7 linked regions of the Homo sapiens genome follow. The protein of the gene in region 1 purifies or fractionates together with the protein of each later gene. This does not show direct contact. Each region holds a gene or a part of one and is shown in the gene's direction. Other genes may lie near its edges. The genes, in order: CDH5, VANGL2, ST7, PTPRU, CAPN15, TBL2 and EXOG.

What was found.
Region 2: the proteins of CDH5 (region 1) and VANGL2 purify together in Homo sapiens (affinity purification with mass spectrometry; 2 studies listed by BioGRID and IntAct, with this or other methods). This does not show direct contact.
Region 3: the proteins of CDH5 (region 1) and ST7 purify together in Homo sapiens (affinity purification with mass spectrometry; 2 studies listed by BioGRID and IntAct, with this or other methods). This does not show direct contact.
Region 4: the proteins of CDH5 (region 1) and PTPRU purify together in Homo sapiens (affinity purification with mass spectrometry; 2 studies listed by BioGRID and IntAct, with this or other methods). This does not show direct contact.
Region 5: the proteins of CDH5 (region 1) and CAPN15 purify together in Homo sapiens (affinity purification with mass spectrometry; 2 studies listed by BioGRID and IntAct, with this or other methods). This does not show direct contact.
Region 6: the proteins of CDH5 (region 1) and TBL2 purify together in Homo sapiens (affinity purification with mass spectrometry; 2 studies listed by BioGRID and IntAct, with this or other methods). This does not show direct contact.
Region 7: the proteins of CDH5 (region 1) and EXOG purify together in Homo sapiens (affinity purification with mass spectrometry; 2 studies listed by BioGRID and IntAct, with this or other methods). This does not show direct contact.

What each region holds. Positions count from the first base shown.
Region 1 is NC_000016.10:66,373,191-66,376,690, forward strand, and holds part of CDH5 (cadherin-5 preproprotein), read left to right. Parts: exon of another isoform or gene 1-27; intron 28-2,410; exon of another isoform or gene 2,411-2,611; intron 2,612-3,500. UniProt on the Homo sapiens protein: Cadherins are calcium-dependent cell adhesion proteins. They preferentially interact with themselves in a homophilic manner in connecting cells; cadherins may thus contribute to the sorting of heterogeneous cell types.
Region 2 is NC_000001.11:160,421,064-160,424,563, forward strand, and holds part of VANGL2 (vang-like protein 2), read left to right. Parts: coding exon 1-124; intron 125-2,988; coding exon 2,989-3,220; intron 3,221-3,500. UniProt on the Homo sapiens protein: Involved in the control of early morphogenesis and patterning of both axial midline structures and the development of neural plate. Plays a role in the regulation of planar cell polarity, particularly in the orientation of stereociliary bundles in the cochlea.
Region 3 is NC_000007.14:116,956,501-116,960,000, forward strand, and holds part of ST7 (suppressor of tumorigenicity 7 protein), read left to right. Parts: exon of another isoform or gene 1-223; intron 224-2,652; exon of another isoform or gene 2,653-3,317; intron 3,318-3,500. UniProt on the Homo sapiens protein: May act as a tumor suppressor.
Region 4 is NC_000001.11:29,257,022-29,260,521, forward strand, and holds part of PTPRU (receptor-type tyrosine-protein phosphatase U isoform 1 precursor), read left to right. Parts: intron 1-1,483; coding exon 1,484-1,755; intron 1,756-2,239; coding exon 2,240-2,321; intron 2,322-2,427; coding exon 2,428-2,543; intron 2,544-2,848; coding exon 2,849-3,023; intron 3,024-3,500.
Region 5 is NC_000016.10:551,712-555,136, forward strand, and holds the end of CAPN15 (calpain-15), read left to right. Parts: intron 1-339; coding exon 340-501; intron 502-589; coding exon 590-819; intron 820-893; coding exon 894-1,060; intron 1,061-1,151; coding exon 1,152-1,330; intron 1,331-1,603; coding exon of another isoform or gene 1,604-1,627; coding exon 1,628-1,805; 3' UTR 1,806-2,925; downstream 2,926-3,425.
Region 6 is NC_000007.14:73,575,780-73,579,715, reverse strand, and holds the start of TBL2 (transducin beta-like protein 2), read left to right. Parts: upstream 1-1,136; 5' UTR 1,137-1,166; coding exon 1,167-1,296; exon of another isoform or gene 1,297-1,404; coding exon of another isoform or gene 1,405-1,426; exon of another isoform or gene 1,427-1,743; intron 1,744-3,014; exon of another isoform or gene 3,015-3,144; coding exon of another isoform or gene 3,145-3,175; intron 3,176-3,936.
Region 7 is NC_000003.12:38,506,340-38,509,839, forward strand, and holds part of EXOG (nuclease EXOG, mitochondrial isoform 1 precursor), read left to right. Parts: intron 1-514; coding exon 515-629; intron 630-3,500. UniProt on the Homo sapiens protein: Endo/exonuclease with nicking activity towards supercoiled DNA, a preference for single-stranded DNA and 5'-3' exonuclease activity.

The sequences.
Region 1 (3,500 bases):
AGAACGACCGAGAGATGTGACTCTTACCTGCCGAAAGGAAACAGGCTAAAATGAAAAAAGGGCTATGACCACATCTCCAGAGGCTGCAGCCAAGAGAAATTCAGTTTTCAGCTGTGGCTGCAGTAGATCTGACTGGCCCGGTTTCCTCTGCATCATGATGGGAAGGAACATCTGTCCAACAAGACCCTTCCCTGCAGCCCCCATTTTGGTTAGCCAATTTTTTTTTTTTTTTTTTTGAGACGAAGTCTTGCTCTGTCACCTGTTGCCCAGGCTGGAGTGCAGTGGCAGGATCTCAACTCACTGCAACCCCCGCCTCCCAGGTTCAAGCGATTCTCGTGCCTCAGCCTCCCGAGTAGCTGGGACTATAGGCATGCGCCACCATGCCAGGCTAATTTTTGTATTTTTTAGTAGAGACAGGATTTCACCATGTTTCCCAGGCTGGTCTCGAACTCCTGACCTCAAGTGATCCACCCGCCACAGTTTCCCAAAGTTAGTGGCCAAATTTCTAACCTAAAGGGCAAAAGACACAAATAAATGTGGCTTTTCAGATGGGAAGGTCCCACAGGTGTCTCTGAGATTGAGTATAGAAGGAGCCTAGGATTTAGAAAAAGATCGATCTGATGACAACCATTCATGAGTTGTTTGTCTCTGAGCCTCAGTTTCCTAATCTGTGAAATGGGAATGATAAGTCTTACATCCTGGGGATAGTGTGAAAATTAAATGCGCTGGCATGGATGAAGACCAAGCACCGAGAATAGTTCATTATTATTACATGTGAATGTCACCACAGAGATAGAGAGAGTGGCATGACGCAAAAAGCACTAATTTGGGGGAAAGACAGCCTAAGTTCAAATCCTGGCTCCACTGCCTCCGGCTATGTGAACTGAGATGACTTACGCTACCTCTCTGAGCCCCCATTTCTTTACCTGCAAAATGGGAACGCAGACAACTACCTAGAAGGGTTGTTGCAAGGTTTAAATAAAATAACGTGTGCCTCGGGGGAGTGCTCAGGGATGTCAGCCCTCCTCCACCGTCCCAGGCGAGAAAGAGCTGTCTCGGGAGGGTGCTCAAGGCTCTGGCATGGGGGTGCAAATGGGATTATGTGATCCCAAGCTCCCAAATGCCCCCAACCCAAGGTCCTGCCCCTCACCAACAGCTGACTGATGAGAGCTGAGCACCCAGACCTCCCTCTGCCCTGGCAAATGACACACAGCTGCTGTGAGGTGACTCTGCGAGAGCCAGTCTCAGCCCTGTCAGAGGGAAGGAGCTTGAGGGTGGCCCATGTGCTCCAAGGGACTTCTCTCCAGAGCTAGCAGCAGGGCCCCTGCTGGACACACAACAGAATCCAAGGGGCTTTTCTGCACCTTCAGAGAACGCTTTGTTATGTGGGGCCAGACAAAGCCCACTGAGGAGTTAATGTCCCCCCAGGAGCCACGTGGTCCGAGCCTGTGACTGGTGGACTCTGCTTTGCTGAAGTCTGGTGTAGGTACAGCCGTGCATCTTTTTTTTTTTTTTTTTCAAATCAAGGAAGGAACCTCATTTTATTCTGAATGTGTTAGTTTTGACCGTCTTCACCCTGAAATTTTCTCTTTGTTTAATTTTATTTATTTATTTTTTATTAGTATACTTTAAGTTCTAGGGTACATGTGCACAACGTGCAGGTTTGTTACATATGTACACATGTGCCATGTTGGTGTGCTGCACCCATTAACTCGTCATTTACATTAGGTGTATCTCCTAATGCTATCCCTCCCCTCTCCCCCCACCCCACGACAGGCCCCGGTGTGTGATGTGCATCTTAATGACTGGGACACATTCTGAAAAACGAGTTCAGGTGATTTCGCTGTTGTGCAAACATCAGAGAGTGTGCTTACACAAAGAAATCTGGATCGTATAGCCTGCCGCACACCTAGGCTGTACGGTACAGTCTATTGCTCTTAGGCTCCATACCTGTGCAGCATGGTACTGTACTGAATGCTGTAGCCAATTTTAACACGACAGCAAGTATTGATGTATCTAAACATATCTAAATACAGACAAGATACAATAAAATTCCCATGTAAAAGATAAAAAAGGAGCCTGTAATCCCAGCACTTTGGGAGGCCAATGCAGGAGGATCACTTGAGGCAGGAGTTCAAGACCAGCTTGGGCGATATAGTCAAACCCCTCCACCCCAACTATCTCTTCAAAAAAATTTAAAAATTAGCCAGATGTGCTGGCACATACCTCCTTGTGGGGCTGAGGTGGGAGGATTGCTTGAGCCCAGGAGTTTGAGGCTGCAGTGAGCCGCATTCACACCACACTCCAGCCTGGGCGACAGAGGGAGACTCAATCTCAAAAAAATAAAAAAGTAAAAAATAAAAATAAAAATAAAAAAATAAAAAATGGTACACCTCTCTATGGTACATACCATGAGTGGAGCTTCCAGGACTAGTAATTGGTCTGGGTGAGTCAGGGAGTGAGTGGTGAGTGGCCTAGGACGTCACTGTATCCTACTGTAGACTTAATAAACACCGTACACTTAGCTTCACTAAATTTACTTAAAAATATTTTTCTTTCGTCAATAAGAAATTAGTTTACTATTAGGGTAGTGCAAAAGTAATTGCTGTTGTTGCCGTCTAAAAAAAAAAAAAGCCACCGGCTACGGTGGCTCACGCCTGCAATCCCAGCACTTTGGGAGGCTGACGCGGCGGATCGCCTGAGGTCAGGAGTTTGAGACCAACCTGGCCAACAAGGTGAAACCCCGTCTCTACTAAAAATACAAAAAAAAATTGGCCGGGCGTGGTGTCACGCGCCTGTAATCCCAGCTACTTGGGAGGCTGAGCCAGGAGAATGACTTGAACCTGGGAGGCGGAGGTTGCAGTGAGCTGAGATCACACCGCTGCACTCCAGAACAAAACTCTGTCTCAAAGGAAAAAATAATAAATAAATAAATAAATAAATAAATAAAACACAATTACTTTTGCACCAACCTAATATAACATTTTTTATAAAGTTGGTCTACACTACCATCACCCCAAACACACGAGTAATGGCTTGTGCTGTGACGTCACAATGGCTGCAATGTTACTAGGGCAGAGGAATTTTTAGCTCCATTAAAACCTTAGGGGACCACATTCATATGTGCAGTCCATTGTTGACCAAACAGTCATTTTGCAGCACATGACTCTATTTATCCATCTGACCGCTGGCTGCGGTCAGCCCTAGGGATCACTAACCCATCCCAATAGGCCCCAGGAAAGAGAAAACCACATTCCCGCTCACTGTATTAGAGATGGGGTTCCCAGCAGGAAACAGAGCGAACCCTGGGAGGCCAATTGAAGAGATTTTATGAAGGGACTGCTTCAGAGAGGTGGGCTCCTTTAAGGAAACCAACCACTGCCTGCACAGAGGTGGGCTCGGATGTTGAGGTACCCAGAGACCAGCAACAGCACTTCTGCCTGGAATTCCCTTCCCTCTCCTGTCAGTCCTGTGGCTGGCACTCAGATGTGGGCTGAAAC
Region 2 (3,500 bases), on another chromosome or scaffold:
ACAACTCCACTGGCCAGTCTCGGGCTGTGATTGCAGCGGCAGCTCGGAGGCGGGACAACAGTCACAATGAGTACTACTATGAGGAGGCTGAGCATGAGCGAAGGGTGCGCAAGAGGAGGGCCAGGTGGGTCCCTGGGGGAGAAGAGGAGAGGAGGTGCTTGTTGGGTGAATGGGGAGAGGAAGACCAAGGAACTTCTGTAACTGCTGGAAATATAGGGCAATGATGACATGAGTTGGGGGTGTGTGCTTGTTTTCCGTTGCTGCCCTAACAGATTACCATAAACTTAGCAGCTGTGAAACAGCACACATTTATTATCTCCCAGTTCCATGGGTCAGGTGCAGGCTGGCTGGAGGCTGTGCTCAGGCCTCACAGGCTGAAATCAAGAGGACTCTCATCTGAGCCTATGCTTTCTCTTTCAAGCTCATTATTATGGGGAGAATTCAGTGCCTTGTCACATAGCCCCATAGGCAGTTTACATGATGGTAGTGCACTTTTTTTTCCAGCAGAAACAGGTCTCTGACCTCTGCCACCAGCTGGAGATAATGCTGATTTTAAAGAGCTCATGTGATGAGATCAGGCCCTAAAGGACAGTCTTCTTTTAAGGCCACTGACTTGGCACATTAATTACATCTGCAAAATGTACCAAGATTGTTGTCTAATGAGGGGATGGGAGTCTGGTAGAAGTGGAGGGTATCTTTGAATTCTGCCTGCCACAGTGGGGTAGGGACCCAATAAAGGGATGTGAGCTTTACCTGCAACAGCATGGACTCAGGCTAGACTAGCCTGCCTGCCAGTAGATCTTGAGAGGACTCACCAGATGGTGCTTTTGTTGCCTTCAAAAAATGACGTTTTATTGCCTATATTTTGGTAAATTCTTAAATGCCATCCTAGCTTCTCCCTTTCCCTATTCATATTATTAAGTGAATTTAGTCAACCCTGAAGAATCTTACTTGGTGCCTACTCTGCCGGGTTCCATCTTGGTCTGTCGGGAGTTCCCTGAGGGAGGAGCAGAGTGCCTCAGGACTTGACCACGCACCTGGCCTCCGCCCCATCTCCCACATGAACTCCAGGCTTCAAGGGCAAGAGGTAGCCCTTACCTTGTTCCTATTTGAGGCTGGCATCCCCTGTAGTAGAACAAAGATCACCAACTCCATTTCTGTGGCATTCCAACCTGTCTCTAATTGTCTTGGAAATGGCCTGAGACTTGGGAAGGAAACCAGTGATGTCCCTACCCCTTTATCTTCTGCCCTGACCAGGGTCATCCAATCTCCTGTACTGCCACCACCATTTTTGGCACATAGAGGACTCTTTCCTTTCCCCATTACCTTGCTTTTAACCAGGAGCAAACTTTTTCCTTTGTTTACCTGAGATAAAAGGATCTTTTCAAAGGGAATTTACTGAGAAATGTAGGGGAAGCAAGAGAATAAAGGAAGAAATGATAGACATACACAGATCCACACCTATATACCCAGAGTCCCATCTGAAATGACTCAGGTTCCTGGGTTCTGCATAGAAGGCCTCACTTTCTTTCTTTGTCCTGTCACTTCAGGCTGGTCCTGCTCTTAGGCCAGGGGGCTTTTATTTTGGTTTTTGGACTTGAAGTGCAGATAATTGCATTAATTGCTCTTTTCAGCTTCTAACATATTGTCATTATAGAGTTTTTCATGGTTCTTTATTCTGTTTCTTCTTTTCCTCCAGTTCCCACTTTCACTCCAGCGCCACATTTTAGGCATCCTGTTGAGTGTGTTTGACTTCCTTAAAAGCTATATGTATCCTTGTGCAAAGTTAGTGTTAGTGTAGTGATCTTTGTTGGTGTTGGTGTGTGTGTCTGTATGTATGCTTTTTTTTTTTTTTTTATTGAGATGGAGTCTTGCTCTGTCCCCCAGGCTGGAGTGCAGTGGCATGATCTCAGCTCACTGCAACCTCCGCCTCCTGGGTTCAAGTAATTTTCCTGCCTCAGCCTCCCCAGTAGCTGGGATTACAGATGCACACCAGCATGCCCAGCTAATTTTTGTATTTTTAGTAAAGATGGGGTTTTGCCATGTTGGCCAGGCTGGTCTTGAACTCCTGACCTCAGGTGATCCACCTGTCTCACCCTCCCAAAGTGCTGGGATTATAGGCATGAGCCACCACACCCGGCCATCTATATGCTTTTAATGTAAATGGATTTTTTTTTCCTGCTTCCTCCTTAACACTGTGTTTTTGAGATTCATCCAAGTTGTCTGTACATCTAGTTTGTTGCATCTTTTTGCTGCATAGTAGTTCATGGAATACTCCCAACATCCTATCCAATATTTGGTTTATAGTTACCTTCTTTCTTTTTTCCATTTTGATGGAAAAGTAATATTTTACTAACATTTTCATTTGCATCTCTCTAATTGCTAGCCAGTAACTACTTCGTATATCTTTTAGCCTTTCAGTCCTCTTGTGAATTTTCTGTTCACCTCCTTTGCCCTTTTTTCTCTAGGTTTCCTGTCTTTTTCTTCTTGATAGAAATTGTAGCAAATTCTTTGCATGTTCTAGATCTGAATCCCTTGTTGGTTTTAGATGTGTATATTTTCCCCAGCTCCATCAGATGTCAGTTAATGTTGCCCATGCTGTCATGGTTGAACAGAAATCTGTCATTTTGATGTAATCATATCTATTAATTGTTGAGCCAATGAAGTATGATTTGGGGGTCTTATTTAAGAAGGTTTTCCTTAAAGTTTGGTGGAATGCTTTGTCTTTCCTATAGCATAGTTCCTAGTTGTCTCTCTGGGTTTGACACTAGGTTTGCCCTCTGAGTCCCTGGGCTGGGCCCACTGAACTCTGTGGCTGTTTACTGTTCCCAGTGGCAGAAAGGCACTATTGCCTCTGGCTTTGTATTACTTTGGGTGAGCACAAAGGCCTGACCTCATTCAGGCTGCTGGAGTGTTGGAGCTAGGGGAGAGGGGTGGGGTGGGGGAAAGAGAGGTGGGCATCTGGCCCAGTCCCCTCCTGTCCCCTAGGCTTGTAGTGGCGGTGGAGGAGGCCTTCACTCACATTAAGCGGCTGCAGGAAGAGGAGCAGAAAAACCCCAGGGAGGTGATGGACCCCCGGGAGGCAGCCCAAGCCATCTTTGCATCCATGGCCCGTGCCATGCAGAAGTACCTTCGGACCACCAAGCAGCAGCCCTACCACACCATGGAGAGCATCCTGCAGCACCTTGAATTCTGCATCACGCATGACATGACGCCCAAGGTAGGCCTGCCCTGCTGCCAGCATCCTTCCTCCTTCCCCAGCTCCTCTTCTTTCCCACCTTCATTTTCCCTTATTCTCTCACTACTTTCCTCACTGTCCACCTCATTTCTCTCTCCTCACCACCTCCTTTTTATAATCTTCTCTCTCATTCCTATTCCACCTGCCCCATCTGTGTGGGGTGAAGTCTTTAGGTAGATGAGGAGAAGGGAGTCCTCAGGACCATTTTGGGGATGGCTGAGACTTATTTCTCATCTCTATGAGGGCTCCGGAATTACCAGAT
Region 3 (3,500 bases), on another chromosome or scaffold:
GAGTTGCAGATGGCGCAGGCCTCCCTTCCTCCTCAAGGAAGCCAAAGACACCATCACAATCAGGCAGCCAGGAGCCAGGGCTTCCATAGGCCCAGCTCTGTACCTGTAGGGGGATGGAATCTGCTAAAAGTGTTCTGGAGTCATTCTTGGATATCTGCTTGGTATCTTCTCAATATCTTGACCATCTGTGACAATTTTAATCCTCATTTGATCATATTTTATGGTAAATGAGCTTAACTCGATTTTTTTTTAATTTAGATGCCTCCTAATGTACTATAACAGGTGCTATGATAAGAAAGATGAATGAGTTTGTAAAACCCAGGGTAAATAAGGAGTTTACTACAAGAATACAACTTCCCATATGCAAGATGGGGCTGGGCAAGGCTGTGAGAGCTTCTCTTGAATTGAGCCTAAGAGGATGAGGAGAATTCCATGATTGAGGACTCAGAGGTGGACCTCCCAAACAAAGGGACAAAGTTGTGAAAGTGCAGGTCAGATTCAGAGAAGAGCTAATCGTGGAATTTAATTTAAAATAATAAAAGAAAAGGACTTTGATGAACAACCATACCGTTTTTAGCTCTTACATCGTGTAGTTTTCCAAGTAAAAATGCTTTGAATGCTGTTTTTGAGGTATACTACTTCCCTACTCCCACCAGCTTGGCTCGTGTGACCTTCGTTGCATTGAGCCAGTGCCATTTAGGGTAGGGATATAGTTCAAAGAATTCCACAGTATTCTCTTAGACCATACAGAGAAACCTTAACATTGGCAATCACATCTTGTAATGAAAATGAATTTTAAAAAAGAAAGGGGAGAAAACGAACATAATAGGAATAGTACATAGTGGCTAGCTTTGATAATAGTTTTTTTTTTTGTTTGTTTTTTAAGAGAGTCTTAGTATGTTACCTAGGTTGGGCTTGAACTCCTGGGCTTAAGGGATCCTCCCACCTCAGCCTCCCTAGTAGCGAGTACTACAGGTGTGTGCCACCATGCCCAGCTGCTGGTAACTGATTTTTGAGGCTCTGCTCTTGATTTGGATACAATAGTGTTAAAATAGTTTTATGATTTACTGAAAATAGAATGAAATTTTAACAAGGTTTTTAAAAGACCCCAAATAATATTACTTGTCAGTTTTCAAGTGAATTAATATCATAAAGCAATACTTTTCCAAAGGGCAGAAAATTAATTGTAGATTGGCACAGTCATGCAGGATATTATTAAAATAGGTGAGTCTTAAAAAATAGTACCATAACTTATACAGTGGTGTTGATGGCACTTTCTCATCTACCCTATGTTATAAAGTTTTTTGCTGCTGAATTTAAACACCTTTTCCTAAAACGGGCAACTTTGCTGTTTTTGCAAAAAGCAGCATAAGTGATTTTCCAATTCTTTTTCTATTTGCTGAAAAGCAAGTTTTCAAAGATCTTTGAAATCCGTTTTCATTCCTTTTGGAAAACAAATGTAATAGCCTGATCTAGGCTTAAAGTTATTTATTTACTTATGTTTGAGACAAGGTTTCACTCTGTCACCCAGGCTGGAGTGCAGTGGTGCAGTCACAGCTCACTGCAGCCTCAACCTGCAGGCTCAAGCAATCCTCCTGTCTCAGCCTGCCACCTCAGTCTTAGTAGCTGAGACTACAGGTGCACACCACAGTGCGTGGCTAATTTTTTTTTTTTTTTTTTTTTTTTGTAGAGACAGGGTCCCCTGTGTTCTTGAACTCCTGGGCTCAAGCAGTCCTACTGCCTCCACCTCCCAAAGTGCTGGGATTCCAGGTGTGAGCCACCGTGCCTGGTCAAGTTATTTAGAAGACTTTTTTTTGTGTTAATTAAGCTCATGAATACAGATGTAAAACTCTTATATTGTTGACGTGATATAGAACTTAGGCTGCAGCTCAGTTTTGGCATTTTTTCATGTTGAGAATTTTTGCTCTAAATTTACTTAACATTTAGATTTTAATTTACTTAAAATTTACATAAAATTGGATTTCCCTTCTAGAGGGTCTGGTTGCAGTTTACATAGGTCTTTTGCCCCTGTTGTGCCTGTTGTCTAAAATGTTCTTCCCTATCTGTAAATCCCACCCATCTATCAAGGACCAGCTGGCATGCTGCCTTCTGATCCTTTCAGCTGCAGAAAAGACAGGCTTACCTTGGAGATATTGCAAGTTTGGTTCCCGGCCACTGCAATAAAGTGAGTCCCATGAAATTTTTGGTTTCCCAGTGCATATAAAAGTTATAGTCACACTATATTGTATTATATTAAGAGTGCAGTAGCATTATATCTAAAAGACCAATGTATATACCTTAATTTAAAAATCCTTTATTGCTAAAAAAAAAAATGCTATCTGAGCCTCAGGAAGTCATAATCTTTTTGCTGGTAGAGAGTCTTGCCTTGATGTTTATGGCTGCTGACTGATCAGGGTGCTGGTTGTTAAAGGTTGGGGTAGCTGTGGCAATTTCTTCAAATAAGACAACCGTAAAGTTTGCCACATGGATTGGTTTTCCTTTCCAGAGAAAGATTTCTCTGTATCATGTGATGCTGTCTGATAGCATTTTACCCACAGTAGGACTTTCAGAATTGGAGTCAATTTTATCACCCTGCCACGGCTTTATCAATGAAGTTTATGTAATATTCTAAATCCTTTGTTGTCATTTCAGCAATGTTCACAGCATCTTCACCAGGAGTAGATTCTATCTCAAAACACTTTCTTTGCTCATCAAAAGAAACAGCTCTTTATCCGTTCAAGTTTTACAAGGAATTACAACAATTCAGTCACATCTTAAAGCTTCAGTTCTAATTCTAGTTATTTTGCTGTTTATGGCATGCCTGCAGTTACTTTATCTTATATGAATTATGGTATATGTGTGTGATATATGTGGGTCAGTGTTTGTGTATATATGCATCTTTTTTTGTATATGTATGTTTTATTACTTCTTCTAGATTCTAGTTCTTCATCTTCCAGTGTTAATTCCTTGTACAAAGTAGGTCCTTATCATTCACTGGATGAATGAATATCCAAGTTACGGTGTATTTAGTGAGCTGGGATTGGAACAATACAATTGATCAAATGCATTACTGAGTATGTGCCCCATCTAAGTTTGCAGCTTTAGATTGTGGTCAGAGGCTGTTACAAGATCTTATATATTCTATGATGGGCCATATGCATCTAAAGCATGGTGGTTCAGTTTATGAATATATAAAAGGACAATTTTTTGATTAATGTCAGCTTTGAGTTTAGAATGTATCCCAGACATCTTAGTTGCCCTTAATTATTTTTGGAGATATTTTTCTCAGCCATTAATAAAGCAATCCGAATGATGCATTTTTCTCTGAGCTTGAGTTTTTGTATATGTAAAATAATGGCTTTACATTCATTAAGTTTCCTTCTAGCTCTGGGATTCTGTGTCTTACGATGAATTTCATTGAGTGCAAAGTGTAGCACCAAGATAATACATGGACTTAATGAGTATACATGTTTTTTACAGTTTGGACTCTTAATACTTAG
Region 4 (3,500 bases), on another chromosome or scaffold:
GAAAGGAGGGAGATTCACACTCAGAGATGGAGAGAGGAGAAGGAAGAGCGACAGGGACAAAGGGAGTAAATGAAAGAGAAGGGGAGGGATGTAGTGAGCCGAGGAGGAGGCAGAGGGAGCAGGAGGAGGAGGAAAGAACAAAGTGTCAGATTGGAAGAGGGAGAAAGATGCACACAGCTGCTCGCAGGGAGAGGAGAGAGAAGTAGCATGAGTGGGCCAAGAGGGAGTGTGTTGGGGGTTGAGAAGTGCCCCTTCCTGGGTGGGGATGGGGACTTGAGTTTAGTTTACTACTGCCCTGCTGGGACTGATCCAGGAGCCGCCTCCATAGGGCTTCTAGCTTACAGAGATGAATGAGATCGCCTCCAGCAGAGTCCCTGGGGAGCCCTCCTGGAGCGGGGATCTGAGTGAGCTTGTGTTGGCTGGCAGCCAAGCCCGGGAGGAGGCAGCGCTGGGTGGTTTCGGGTGCCCTTTGGGAAGCCCAAATCCCCCCGCCAGGTCCTGAGCCAGCCTAGTCCACTTCTACTCCACCAGTACCCAGCCTGGGTCTCTGGGGAAGGGACAGGCTGCCTTTCTCCAGGTTGGAAGTCAAGGGGATTTGTATTCCAGGAATTTAGACTCAGGGATGGGGGCTGGAAGGGAAGTTGGAATCCTTTCATTCAATCTCTGTTCTACATATTCATTCAGCTTGCGTCCTGAGGCCTCACAGCCTGGTGGGAGACACACAGGCACTTTAGTAATGACCCAGGGGGCAGGAGAGAAGCCCAGGGTGGGAGGCAGAGGGAGGGCTTTGGAAGGGGTGGCCTTTGAGGGACTGTTGTGTGCCAAGCTCTTGACTCCAGGGATGAATGACCTAGTCCCTGTCTCCAGGGATAGCTCAGAACATGGGGAAAGCTGTGGTTAGGCTGGGCATGGGCATTGTGACCTGTAGATTGTAAGGAGCCATAATTTTTTTTTTCTTTTTGAGACCGAGTCTTGCTCTGTCACCCAGGCTGGAGTGCAGTGGCGTGATCTTGGCTCACTGCAACCTCTGCCTCCCAGGTTCAAGCAATTCTCCTGTTTCAGCCTCCCGAGTAGCTGGGACTACAGGCACATGCTACCACACCCTGCTAATTTTTGTTTTTTTAGTAGAGACAGGGTTTTACCATATTGGTCAGGCTGGTCTCGAACTGCTGACCTCAGGTGATTCACCCACCTCAGCCTCTCAAAGTGTTGGGATTATAGGCGTGAGCCACCGCGCCCAGCCTTTAAATGGTTTTGACAAAGTCAGGTTTGTGTGTTTTTTACTGCTCCAGGTCTCCTGTGGGAAACAGATGCTAGGAAGTGAAGGGACTCACCCAGGGAGGTGGAGCTGGGGCCAGAACTCAGAATCCCTGACTCCTGGTGGGTCCCGTTGCCTGGAGTCCTCCTCAGTGCTCCCCTTGCCCTGGCCCTGTCCCTCCCCTGAGGTCTCCTCATCTCCTGCCTCTTCCTCCTCTCTTTCCAGGCTCCTACTTGATGGTCAACACTTCCCAGCATGCCCCAGGCCAGCGAGCCCATGTCATCTTCCAGAGCCTGAGCGAGAATGATACCCACTGTGTGCAGTTCAGCTACTTCCTGTACAGCCGGGACGGGCACAGCCCGGGCACCCTGGGCGTCTACGTGCGCGTTAATGGGGGCCCCCTGGGCAGTGCTGTGTGGAATATGACTGGATCCCACGGCCGTCAGTGGCACCAGGCTGAGCTGGCTGTCAGCACTTTCTGGCCCAATGAATATCAGGTGGGCTGGGTTCAGTCAGCGGTCAGCCTGTGCCTGGAGGTGGGGCAGATGGATGTCAAATTGAGGTTGGAGTAGATGAGTGGCTGAAGTTAGAATGTGTCTGCATTCAGTATCAGAGGCAACCTGTGGTCAAGGCCAGGGGTCAGTCTGGGGCCAGTCTGGGTTCAGCATCTGAGGTCATTGTTCCTAGGAATAGCCTCTGGCCCAGGTCAAGGGTGAGTTGGAACAGTGCTGACCTGGAAACTCTGTCTGGCTGCTTGAGGGTAACTGTCCAGGATTTGGGTGGAAACTGGCCTCCACCTTGTTCACTATGGGCGCTGGGACCCCACCCCCAACTAGCTGGCTTGGGAGGGAGGGTCAGTGTGAGCTGGGCTGACCTCTGCTAGTTGAGGCAGAGGAGGCTGAGGCCGAGCTGAAAGTGGGCACCTCCCCAGGCAAGGCTGGAGGAATATCAGTATGATAGGGGCCCTCCCGCCTCCCCCAGGTGCTGTTTGAGGCCCTCATCTCCCCAGACCGCAGGGGCTACATGGGCCTAGATGACATCCTGCTTCTCAGCTACCCCTGCGGTGAGTCCCAGCCCACTGGGGGCGCAGGGGTAAGGGGTGTGGGCGGCCGCGGCTCCTGCCTGCAGGGGGTGCAGGCCCAGCTCACGATGCAGCTCTAACCCCGCAGCAAAGGCCCCACACTTCTCCCGCCTGGGCGACGTGGAGGTCAACGCGGGCCAGAACGCGTCGTTCCAGTGCATGGCCGCGGGCAGAGCGGCCGAGGCCGAACGCTTCCTCTTGCAAGTGAGCGGGAGCGGTGATCTTGGCTGGGGGCGGGGTGGGAGGGGGTTGGTGGCTGCTTCTGGCCCTGACTCCCCCCAGATTGCTGAGTCCCTGCTTCATACTCCAGCACTGCGCACAGCGTCCCGGCCCTCCCCTAGCTCTGCTCTGCGCTTTCTTGGGTCCCCCATTCCCCCAGGTTAGAGCGCGGCTCCAGGAACCTATGTCCGCGCGGTGTAGTAGGGACGGCTAAATGGGGCCCGGGTCAGAGCGAGATCGGGACCCCTCGCTCCGAGGCGCCCCTGACCCCCTCACTCTCTTCCCTGCAGCGGCAGAGCGGGGCGCTGGTGCCGGCGGCGGGCGTGCGGCACATCAGCCACCGGCGCTTCCTGGCCACTTTCCCGCTGGCTGCCGTGAGCCGCGCCGAGCAGGACCTGTACCGCTGTGTGTCCCAGGCCCCGCGCGGCGCGGGCGTCTCTAACTTCGCGGAGCTCATCGTCAAGGGTCAGCTGGTGGACGCCGGGGAGCGCCGGGACCTCACCCTCGAGGGGCGGGGCCGGCGACGGGGGCGGGCTCTGCCCGGGGGCGTGGCCGTGGGGGGTGGGGCCGGCAGGGTGTCGCTGGGGCGCTATCTGAAGATGGGCCTGTGGAAATGGCAGTGGCCCAGCCGGGATGAGATCTGATCTAGGGGTCGGGGCTGGCTTCGAGGGGGACGGACAGGGTCAAGGTGAGAGCCTAAAGAGGGGTGGGGTTCTGGCTGTGTGACTTCTGTGTTGATCCTAGCTGGCCTGCGGTCCGCTCCAGGAGGCGAGGATGTGGGGGATTAGGAGGGGCCTGAGAGAGGGGTTGTGGGCTGATGGGCGAGGGCGGGGTCAGCCTTTGGAGCCAGGTGCCCCTTAGGGCCCGGGATTTAGTGGGGGTAGGAGAGCGGGTCTGGTTGAGGGCTTGGTAGCAGCGTGAGAGGCCCTAGGAGGACGGAGA
Region 5 (3,425 bases), about 66 Mb from region 1:
GCCGAGTCCTTCTCTGGAGAACAAGCCTGTCCCTCCTGCTGACCTGGGGTGGGGCGGCTTGTTCGTGGCCCAAATGGGACCTGGAGCTTCAGCTCCAAGGTGCCAACCTCAGAATTCAGGTCCACCCAGGTCAGCAGATTCCAGCGCCCTGAAGAGCCGGCCCTGGAGGGCTTCCTATTATAGGCCTCAGGGATGGGCCCCCGGGGGCCGGGCTGCAAGAGGACGGTGACGGAGCAGCTGGCACCTGCTGGGGTCACCGGCCTGTGGTTGCGGTAGGCGCTGAGCCACGGAGGTGTGGGCCGTGGTAGGCTCAGGGCCCCGTCCTCCCGCCACCTGCAGGTACTTCGACTCCGTGGACATCTGTAAGGTGCACTCGGACTGGCAGGAGGCGCGGGTGCAGGGCTGCTTTCCCAGCTCGGCCAGCGCGCCCGTGGGGGTAACAGCGCTCACGGTGCTGGAGCGGGCCTCGCTGGAGTTCGCGCTCTTCCAGGAGGGCAGCAGGTGGGTGCTGCGGGGCCCCATCGGGCTGGGCTGGGCTAGGCTGGCGGCCGTGACCACGCGTGACCCTGGCCCGTGGTGTCTGGCGCAGGCGCTCGGACGCCGTGGACAGCCACCTGCTGGACCTGTGCATCCTGGTGTTCCGGGCCACGTTCGGCAGCGGCGGCCACCTCAGCCTGGGCCGCCTCCTGGCCCACAGTAAGCGCGCGGTCAAGAAGTTCGTCAGCTGCGACGTCATGCTGGAGCCTGGCGAGTACGCTGTGGTGTGCTGCGCCTTCAACCACTGGGGGCCGCCCCTGCCGGGCACCCCTGCCCCCCAGGGTACGTGGCCCCTACCCCAGGCTCATGCCCCAGGCCCACGGGGAGGGCTGCGGTTCACACGCCCGTCCTTGTAGCCTCCAGCCCCTCGGCAGGGGTCCCGAGAGCCTCCCCAGAGCCGCCGGGCCACGTGCTGGCTGTGTACAGCTCGAGGCTGGTCATGGTGGAGCCCGTGGAAGCCCAGCCGACCACGCTGGCCGACGCCATCATCCTGCTCACCGAGAGCCGCGGAGAGCGGCACGAGGTGGGTGGGGGTCCCGGGGGAGGGTGGCGTGGGGCAGGGGGAGTATGCCCCAGCACCTCCCCTGCCCCACAACTGCCATTCCTGTGCCCAGGGCCGTGAGGGCATGACCTGCTACTACCTGACACACGGTTGGGCGGGGCTCATCGTGGTGGTGGAGAACCGACACCCCAAGGCCTACCTGCACGTGCAGTGTGACTGCACCGACAGCTTCAACGTGGTGTCCACACGCGGCAGCCTGCGTACCCAGGATAGCGTGCCACCCCTGCACAGGTGCGCCCCCGCCCCTGCCCCCCCACCCCTGCACAGGTGCCCCCTCCCCTACCCCGCTGCACCCACACCCAACTCGTGCCCCCCCACCCCTGCACAGGTGCCCCCTCCCCTACCCCGCTGCACCCACACCCAACCCATGCCCCCCCCACCCCTGCAGAGGTGTGCTCATACCCCTGCCCCCACCCCTGTACGGGTGTTTGTCACCCCACTCCTGCTCCTGCCCCTGTACAGGTGGGCACAGCCCTGCCCCCATCCCCACCCTGCCCTCCACAGGTCCTCACCGGTCCCCTCCCCCAGGCAGGTCCTGGTGATCTTGTCCCAGCTAGAGGGCAACGCCGGCTTCTCTATCACCCACCGCCTGGCACATCGCAAGGCAGCCCAGGCCTTCCTCAGTGACTGGACAGCCTCCAAGGGGACCCACAGCCCCCCACTCACGCCAGAGGTCGCCGGTCTGCATGGGCCCCGACCGCTGTGACCACCATGCCTGGGGCAGGGGCTGTGCACAGACGGACCCCCCACCCCCACACGCACTTTATGAGGGAGACCCCGACAGAGGACGCTTGAGCCAGAATCTCAGGACCCCGCCCAGGGAGCTGCCAGCCCAGGGCTCAGCTTCCCATGGGCCCCCCGCCCCCCTCCTTCCCCTCCCTGAACCCCACAGTCCGCCTGGCCAGGCCTCCTGGCCGCCACGCAGAATACCTCGAACCAGGCGGGCTGTGAACCAGCCCCGCTCACCTGCCAGCCCCAACACCCGACGGGGGCCGAGGCCAGGCTGCCCCTCCCTGTGGGCTCAGGGTCTCCTGCGGGCTAGGCAGCCAGGAGCTCTGTCCGCAAAACCAAATCTGGGTGTCAGAGGCCAAGACCCTGGGGTGGGATCAGGGACCACCCCTCACGGGGCATAAGGTCAGTTTTCCCCCAGAGCCCGGGTCCCTGTCCCCCACAGGGCAGGCGGGGTCCCTGGAGCCCTGGTGTGGAGCGGCGAGTCCCGGGGCGGTGCCTGTCTCAGAAGAAGGGGCCCTTGGCCAGCCCCCCAGCGACACTATGCAAATCCTGGAGTGCCCGCCAGGATCGAAGCCATGACTGGGTGCAGGCGGGCGCCAGGCCCGCTGTGGGTGGGCACCAGTTCTCAGCACCGCTCACTGCTGCCGGGCACACTGGGACCAGCAGGCTCCTCAGCCAACCCTGTCCCTCGGCCCGGCCCTGCCAGAGAGGGACCCCAGCACATCGTGGGCACGGGCAGGGCTCAGCCGCTCCCACCTCCCCACAGAAGCCCAGGAGTGTGTGGACGTCTGAGCCCAGCTTTCTGCGTGCCCTCCTGGCCCCTCACTCCCGGCAGCGGGCCGGCCTCGCCCCCACTCCCCCTCCTACCCCGGCAGGGGCTTCCGGGGCCTTTTCACCTGGAGAAACATTCCCACTCCCCTTTGGCCTCCCTGTACTCTGAGCTGTGAATATTTTTAACCCTGTAAATACGGCCAGCTCTTGTGACACAGAGACTATTTTATCAATTGTCAGTCCCGTTCCTTTACCATAGGATTCTCCACAGTGGCTTCCGACTCAGGCTCCAATGGACCAAATAAAAGCGTTTTGTTTTGTAATCACGCCTCCTCCTCCTGCTGTTGCCCCGCGCAGGGCCCTGTGGAAGGGCGGGGAGGTTGCAGGTCTGAGGGGTAGGCCCTGCCCAGGCATCCCGGGCAGGCGGACGGGTGGGGGCCCCTGGAGATGGCCGTGGTGGGGTGACTCACAAGCTTGTAAGGGGCAGCCGGCCCTGCCAAATGGACGCAGCCAGGAAGGACGGAGTGACTGGGCGGGGGCAGGGGTCAGACCCTGCGGCCGCAGCCCCAGGGCCGGGAAGGACTGGGCAGACGGGACAGCAGCGCATGCAGCTTCTTCCAGCGAGGCATCCGCACGGGGGGCTCTGTCTGAACCCATCAGTCACCCGGCAGGAGCAGATGGAGTGAGGGGGCGCGTGGGGAGAAAAGTTTCCTGTCCCCTCCCAGCCTCGTCCCAGGGTGGCCTCTGCCCCCACACGGGTGCTGCTGAGCAAAGCGCCCGCTCGGAGGCTCTGCTGTCTCCCTGGACGGAGTTGGGGGCTGGG
Region 6 (3,936 bases), on another chromosome or scaffold:
AAACACAAAAAGTAGCAGGGCATGGTGGCACGCGCCTGTAATCCCAGCTACTCTGGAGGCTGAGGCAGGAGAATCTCTTGCACCCGGGAGACGGAGGTTGCAGTGAGCCGAGACGCGTCACTGCACTCCAACCTGGGCAACCGTCTCAAAAGTAAATACATAAATAAATAAATAAAATAAGTTTTCTATTAAAAATTCTCCCTTTTAACTTTCGACTTGCCAGGCCAGCCCCAAATCCAGGCCCTCGTCACCTCCCTCTCGGATCCTTGAAGCCACTGCCGGTTTTCTGATTTTGGTCTTTTCACACAAAGGTCCATCCAGGGAATCCTCAGACACAGCTTTTGCCCCACCTCTCCCTGTAATGAGCAGCTTGTTGGATGGAGCCAGCGCTCAACGTCCCCCAGACCTTTCCGCCCCTCTAGCCATTTCCCACATCCCAGCTTCTCAGGTCTTTGCGGAGGCTGTTCCACTCCACGCGCCTGGCCTACTCTTCCTTAAAAGCCCATCTGAACTTTCGCTGATGCTGAGTTTCCTATCCGTTAAATGGTAATAATAATCCCCGCCCCGCTTCCTTGAAAGGATCCAGTGTGGTGATGGCTGGAATAATGCCTTTAATAAACAATTATCAGTGAGTTCTTCAGGAGGAGGCGTGAGCAGTGATCGCAAATCCCGCCTTCCTCCGCCCTCCGCAGCCCTGCAATCTCAACCGCCAGGCGACCCGCCCCTCGAAACGCACCAAGGGTCGAGCCCTGCCCCTCGAGATGTTCTACTTCCAGGCCCCGCCCCTCGAGACACTCTACCTCCGGGTTCTGCCCCTCGAGACGCTCTAACAACCCAGCCCCGCCCCTCGAGACGCGCTAACTCCAGACTCTGCCTCTCGAGGCGCTCTAATAACTAGGCTCGGCGGGTGGAGATGCTCTAACTCCAGGCCCCGCCCCTCGAGCGCCACAACAGCCGGGCCCCACCCCTTGAGGTGCTTTAACGGCCAGGCCCCGCCCTGAAGGCGTTGTAACAACCAGGCTCCGCCCCCAGGCGCTCTAACGGCCAGGCCCAGCCGCTTGAGGCTCCCCAACGGCCAGGCCGCGCCCCCGCGTGCGTGCGCGGCCCGGCAGAGCCGTGCGGGCGCCCGCGTACTCACTAGCTGAGGTGGCAGTGGTTCCACCAACATGGAGCTCTCGCAGATGTCGGAGCTCATGGGGCTGTCGGTGTTGCTTGGGCTGCTGGCCCTGATGGCGACGGCGGCGGTAGCGCGGGGGTGGCTGCGCGCGGGGGAGGAGAGGAGCGGCCGGCCCGCCTGTAAGTGGGGCCGGGTCGGGTGGGGGCGGCCCGCGGTGTCCCGGCTCCCGGCCTCCTCGTGGTCCGACCTGCGGTTTGGGCCCGCGGCTGGTGGGGCCCGGCGACTCCATGGGCCTCAGTTTCTCCTCTGGTAACGTGAGCTTCGCTTCCAGAGACGGGGACCCGCCTTGCCGGGTTAGGCGCACCTCCTGGGGCGGGACTGGCTCCAACCTGGGCCCCTTACTGCGGCTTTCTCTGTGGCCGAGGCCAGGCCGTCCCCGGGGTGGCCAGGAGAGCACCGTAAACTCTTCAGCCTGCTCCGTGGCCGCGATCTCGGAAAAAGCACCAATTCTGTGATGTGCAGCAGCATTTACTGGGCATCTATGACCCTGTGATAGGCTTTGGGGTCTTTTTCTGTAAGGAGTCCAGTAAAGGAGAAGTACATCTGTATTATGAACACCTAAATATGTAAGTGAAAAACACGGTGAAATAAGTTTCACTGAGGCCAGGCGAAGTGGCTCACGCCTGTATTCCCAGCACTTTGGGAGGCCGAGGCAGGGAGATCGCTTGAGCCCAGGAGTTTGGGACCAGCCTGAGCAACATAGCAAGACCCCATCTCTACGCAAAATTAGCTGGGTGTGGTTGTGCACGCCCCTGTAGTCCCAGCTCCATGGGAGGCCGAGGCAGGAGGGTGTCGTGAGTCCAGGAATTCAAGGCTGCAGTGAGTTGTGATAGATCGCGCCACTGTACTTCAGCCTGGGTGACGGCAAGAGCCTGTCTCTGAAAAGTTTCATAGAAGAGGTTAGTACTAGAAATGGGAAACACCAGAGAGTCAGTGGGCAGCCCTGCTCTTTTTATTTATTTTTCAGACAGAGTTTCGCTCTTCTTGCCCAGGCTGGAGTGCAGTGGCACAATCTTGGCTCGTTGCAACTTCCGCCTGCCAGGTTCAAGCGATTCTTCTGCCTCTGCCTCCCGAGTAGCTGGGACTACAGGCACACACCACCACGCCTGGCTAATTTTTGTATATTTAGTAGACGGGGTTTCGCCACGTTGGTCAGGCTGGTCTCGAACGCCTGATCTCAGGTGATCCACTCGTCCTGGCCTCCAAAAGTGCTGAGATTACAGGCGTGAACCACTGTGCCCGGCCAGCCCTGCATTTTTTTTTTTTTTTTTTTTGCAGGGGGACGGAGTTTTGCTCTGTCGCCCAATCTGGAGTCTAGTGGCGGGATCTCGGCTCACTGCAAGCTCCGCCTCTGGGTTCACGCCATTCTCCTGCCTCAGCCTCCTGAGTAGCTGGGACTACAGGCGTCCGACACCACACCCGGCTAATTTTTTGTATTTTTTGAGTAGAGACGGGGTTTCACTGTGTTAGCCAGGATGGTCTCAATCTCCTAACCTCTTGTGATCCACCTGCCTCGGCCTCCCAAAGTGCTGGGATTACAGGCGTGAGCCACCCTGCCTGGCCGAGTCCTGTTCTTTTATGGGGGAGGTGGTTGTTAGGGAAATCATTACTGAGAATAGGGGGCACATGAGGTAGTGTGGGGTCTCAAAGGATGGTTCTAGAAGAAGAGTTTGCCAGAAGGCCAAGGAAAAAAGACATTCCTGCCAATGGCAATACCCGAGAAGGCAAGGAGTCCCCAAACAGCATTTGGTATGACTTAAGTGTGAGGAGGGGGGCTTGTTAGACATGCCTGGAGAGAAGGAAGCAGAGGACAGATTGTGGCTGTGTTTGTTTGCAGGGCCCAGGAGCTTTTTTCCTGTTGGAATTGGGGAGCATCTGCAGTCATTTACCACATGCCAGCTTTGTGACTCAATTAAGTATCTTTTACAAAAGTGACTGGCTCCACTCCCCCGCACAGGACTCAACAGATGTTGACTTCTCATCCCCGAGTTCTTTCAGGTACTGGAGTGCAGTGGTGCGATCTTGGCTTACTGCAACCTCTACCTCCTGGGTTCAAGTGATTCTCCTGCCTCAGCCTCCTGAGTAGCTGGGATTACAGGCGCCTGCCACCACGCCCGGCTAATTTTTGTATTTTTAGTAGAGACGGGGTTTCACCATGTTGGCCAGACTGGTGGAACTCCTGGGCATCAAGATGATCCAGCTGCCGGGCCGGGCATGGTGACTCACGCCTGTAATCCCAGCACTTTGGGAGGCCGAAGCGGGCAGGTCACAAGGTCAGGAGATCGAGACTGAGGCAACAGAGCGAGACTCTGTATCAAACAAAAAAAAAAAATGATCCAGCAGCTGCCTCAGCCTCCCAAAGCGCTGGGATTACAGGCATGAGCCACCGCACCCGGCCTCCATAGAGCCTTTAATGCTTGTGTTCGGTACTTTTGCTTGTCACTTTGTAGATATCTCATCCAATTCAATCTCCCTTATTTTTATTTATTTATTTATTTATTTATTTTGAGACAGAATCTCACTCTGTCGCCTAGGCTGGAATACAGTGGCACGATCACTGCATTTGAACTCCTGGGCTCAAGCAATTTTCCCTCCTCAGCCTCCGAATAGCTGGGACCACAGGCGCACACCACCATGCCCAGCTAATTAAAGTTTTCTGTAGAGATGGGGTGTCACTATGTTACCCAGGCTGGTCTCGAACTCCTGAGCTCAAGCAATCCTCCCATCTCAGCCTACCAAAATGCTGGGATCACAGGCAT
Region 7 (3,500 bases), on another chromosome or scaffold:
TAACCCTATTAAAAATGTTAGTTTTACATATGATGACGAGTCTTTAAAATAAATTCATTCAGTAATTCTGGTCCTTGAAATTTATCCTAAGGAATTGATACAACGTTGCATTATATAAGAAATGTTAACATAAGCCCAATTGTCCTGCAAGAGGAATGGTTAAATAAAGTATATCATCTTGTTGGAATGATACATAATTCTTGAAAGCTGGTTGGGAACTATGGCATAAAAAAAGTTTTAAGTTCATGAAATTTGAATTCCAGAATGTACTCTGAGCGCACATAAAGAAAAATGTAGATAGTTTTGTTAGTGTATGTGATTTTTAAGTTTTTTCTGTGCAGTAAGCAAACTGGGAAAATAATTGTTTATATGCTTATAATGTTTTGTGCCATGTTCTTGTTTAATTTCTCAAATGCAGTTTTTCTTGGTATCTTTCATAGGAATTGATATGATTTGCTGCTGTCTTACATGTATATATGTGAGAATATCATACATTTTTTTATTTGTTTTTCAGAATAGAAATGTACTGTCGAGAGCTGACAGAAAGGTTTGAAGATGTTTGGGTGGTATCTGGGCCTTTGACCTTACCTCAGACTAGAGGCGATGGAAAGAAAATAGTTAGTTACCAGGTAAGGATGTTTAATAGTCAGGTTTATGTTATCTGTATGAGATTATAATCTCACTTTCCATTCTGCTTTTTATTTTTATTTTTATCATTCAAAAAAAATTTTGCATTCTACTTTTTAATTTCACTTATTCAACAATATTTATTGAACACCTATTAGGAATGATAGGCATAGGGAATATAGTGATGGATAAAAGCAACTATTGACTTCAAGGAACTCACGGTTTAGAGTGGAAAACAGATGTTAACAATTAATTACATTAAAGTGTGACATGCTGTAATAGAGGTAAACACACACAGTGTGGTCTTGTGAAAGGACTGATGGGCTCTACTCATATGAGTCAGGAACGCTTAAAAGAGGAAGTGATATTGAGCTATACCTTGACAGATAAGAGTCAGGAGTGGACCCTGAGGATTCCAGAGGATGGAGCAGGATGAGCACAGGACATTTGTGGTCAACATCAGGGTTTTGAGATTTATATATCATTCATAAAAATTGGAGCTTATGGTACAAAACAGTGTGGGTGGCTCAAGGGGTATGAAGAGTTCCATAACAACAGGTGGACGGGTGAGATAATATGCGACTTTCTATTCTATGATGAAGACTTGGGTTTTAATTTTTAGGCACTAAGAAGTCATAGATTTGTTTTAAGCGTGGGAGAAATATGATATTTGGGTTTTATAAAGAGTATTTTGGCAGCAGCGTGTAAAGAGATAGGTGGGAAAAGGGAGCATTTGAAGAAGAGATTAGAGGCAAGGAGATGAGTTAGGACATACAAGCAGTTGGAGTGAGGAATAATAGAGGAACACAGGAAAGAGTAACCATGAATAAATAACTTGTTTGAGTGAGGAAGAGGGAGAAGTTCCAGGATAACAACTAGATTGCAGACCAGGCTCAGTGGCTCATGCCTGTAATCCCAGCACTTTGGGAGGCCGAGGCAGGCGATCACGAGGTCAGGAGTTCGAGACCAGCCTGGCCAATATGGTGAAACCCCGTCTCTGCTAAAAATACAAAAATTATCTGGGTGTGGTGGCGTGTGCCTGTAGTCCCAGCTACTTGGGAGTCTGAGGCAGAAGAATCGCTTGAACCCAGGAGGCGGAGGTTGCACTGAGCCGAGATCGCACCACTGCACTCCAGCCTGGGCGACAGAGCAAGACTCCACCTCGAAAAAAATAAAAATAAAAATAAAATAAAAACAACCAGATTACAGTGTTACAGTGAGTTGAATAAATGGGAAGAAAAGCTTTTCTTCTAGAAGCTTCTTTTTTTTAATATGCAAGATATGTGAGCACTTTTATAGACTGAAAGAGAGATTAAAGATAGGAGAGTGTAATTAGTGGTGTGAGAGCTTCAGACATCTAATGTTGCTGGGAAATTCTTAGCTAGCCTTTCATATTGGCAATTTACAAAGTGGTATACCTGAAGAGCAGGTGTTCTTAGAAAAAGTTTAACATTTAATCTTATCATGCAGAAATATCCTGAGGATTCTTCCAAGAGGGTGGCTGAAATGTTATACTATACTGTGAGGCTTACAGAGGGCAGGGAACAGGTGGAGTGAAGCAGAAGAGGTGGTAGAGTGAGTAAAAAGAAGCACTGAAGGACTTGCTAATAAGGCCAAAGAGGAGGGGAGGGAACACCTAGCTCAGCTCTGGAAATAAAGTAGATATTTAATAAATGCTGGTTAGGTAAATGATTACTTAAGTCTGTGATAAAATTTAATAACCTGAGGAACAGATTGAGGAACCACCCCCCCCCCAAAAAAAAACCAAAACTTTTAGAGTATATTCTGTCCATTTGACTTGCTTATTATCAGCCTGTCTAGATCAGATGTGCAGTAATGTCCAAGCATCCAAGGATTTGTATAGGTCCATATGAATAGCCCACTTTCTCTTTTTCCACACAAAATTATGACCCAACTACTTCTTTTTGTTAAGTGGAAATGATAGAGTAGTTGTTTTCAAGGATTTGTACATCCTTGGAAAATTCCAGTAGATATGGGAGTGAAGGAAGTCAAAGGAATTAGTATTTTAAAATTAATTCATTTAATATCTCTCCTCCCATATTAATTTCTCTCCTCTGATTAACTTGCTAATTTAATTTTAGTATATTTTATAGTCTTAGGAGAAAAAAAGGCTTAAAGCCCCCTGTATTATTTTTCAAATATTAATTATTCTTGGTCTTTGTTAAATCCTGTTTATTTTATGTCAGAAAAGAGGCTCTTCTAGCTTTGACTTGTATATCTTAAATGGTTAAATTACAGTTTTATTTGTGCTTTGTTTTTATAAAATTGAAAAATTTATATCACTAGCCTACTGTGTAGTAGAACAAAAATTTGTACAATGTTTAAAACGAAAAATTAACCAATAATTACAAGCATTTCACTACATAGATTTTTGTGTGGCTATTTCTGTAAAATATGTGTTGCCCAAATGCCGTAGTGGAAAATGTATTGTTTTTCTTAAGTTGGATATAATTTTTAAAAATAGAACTGATAAAAATATATCTTCTAGTTGTTTCTGCTGAAAAGGCCCAGAAGAATTGGTATGTCATTAGCAATGAACACATCTTGAGACCCAGATATTTGTTTCTAAAAAGCATCTCCTGAAAAGACTCAGCGCTTAGAGAAATGACTGATTTAAGGGGTGGTACAGGGAGAGTACAAAATGGAACATCATATATCAGAAAGCCAAGGAAGTGCTCAGACAAATGGTGGGGATATGTCAGAAGGACATGTGAATCAGCTTGAAGGAGCTCCCACTTACTGTATCTGGTGCTATTGAATATCAAAATAAAATGGATTATAAACCTATTGAATTAAATAAGAATACATACTCAATAAATATGTAAATACATAGGGTGTAAAGAAAAGCTTCT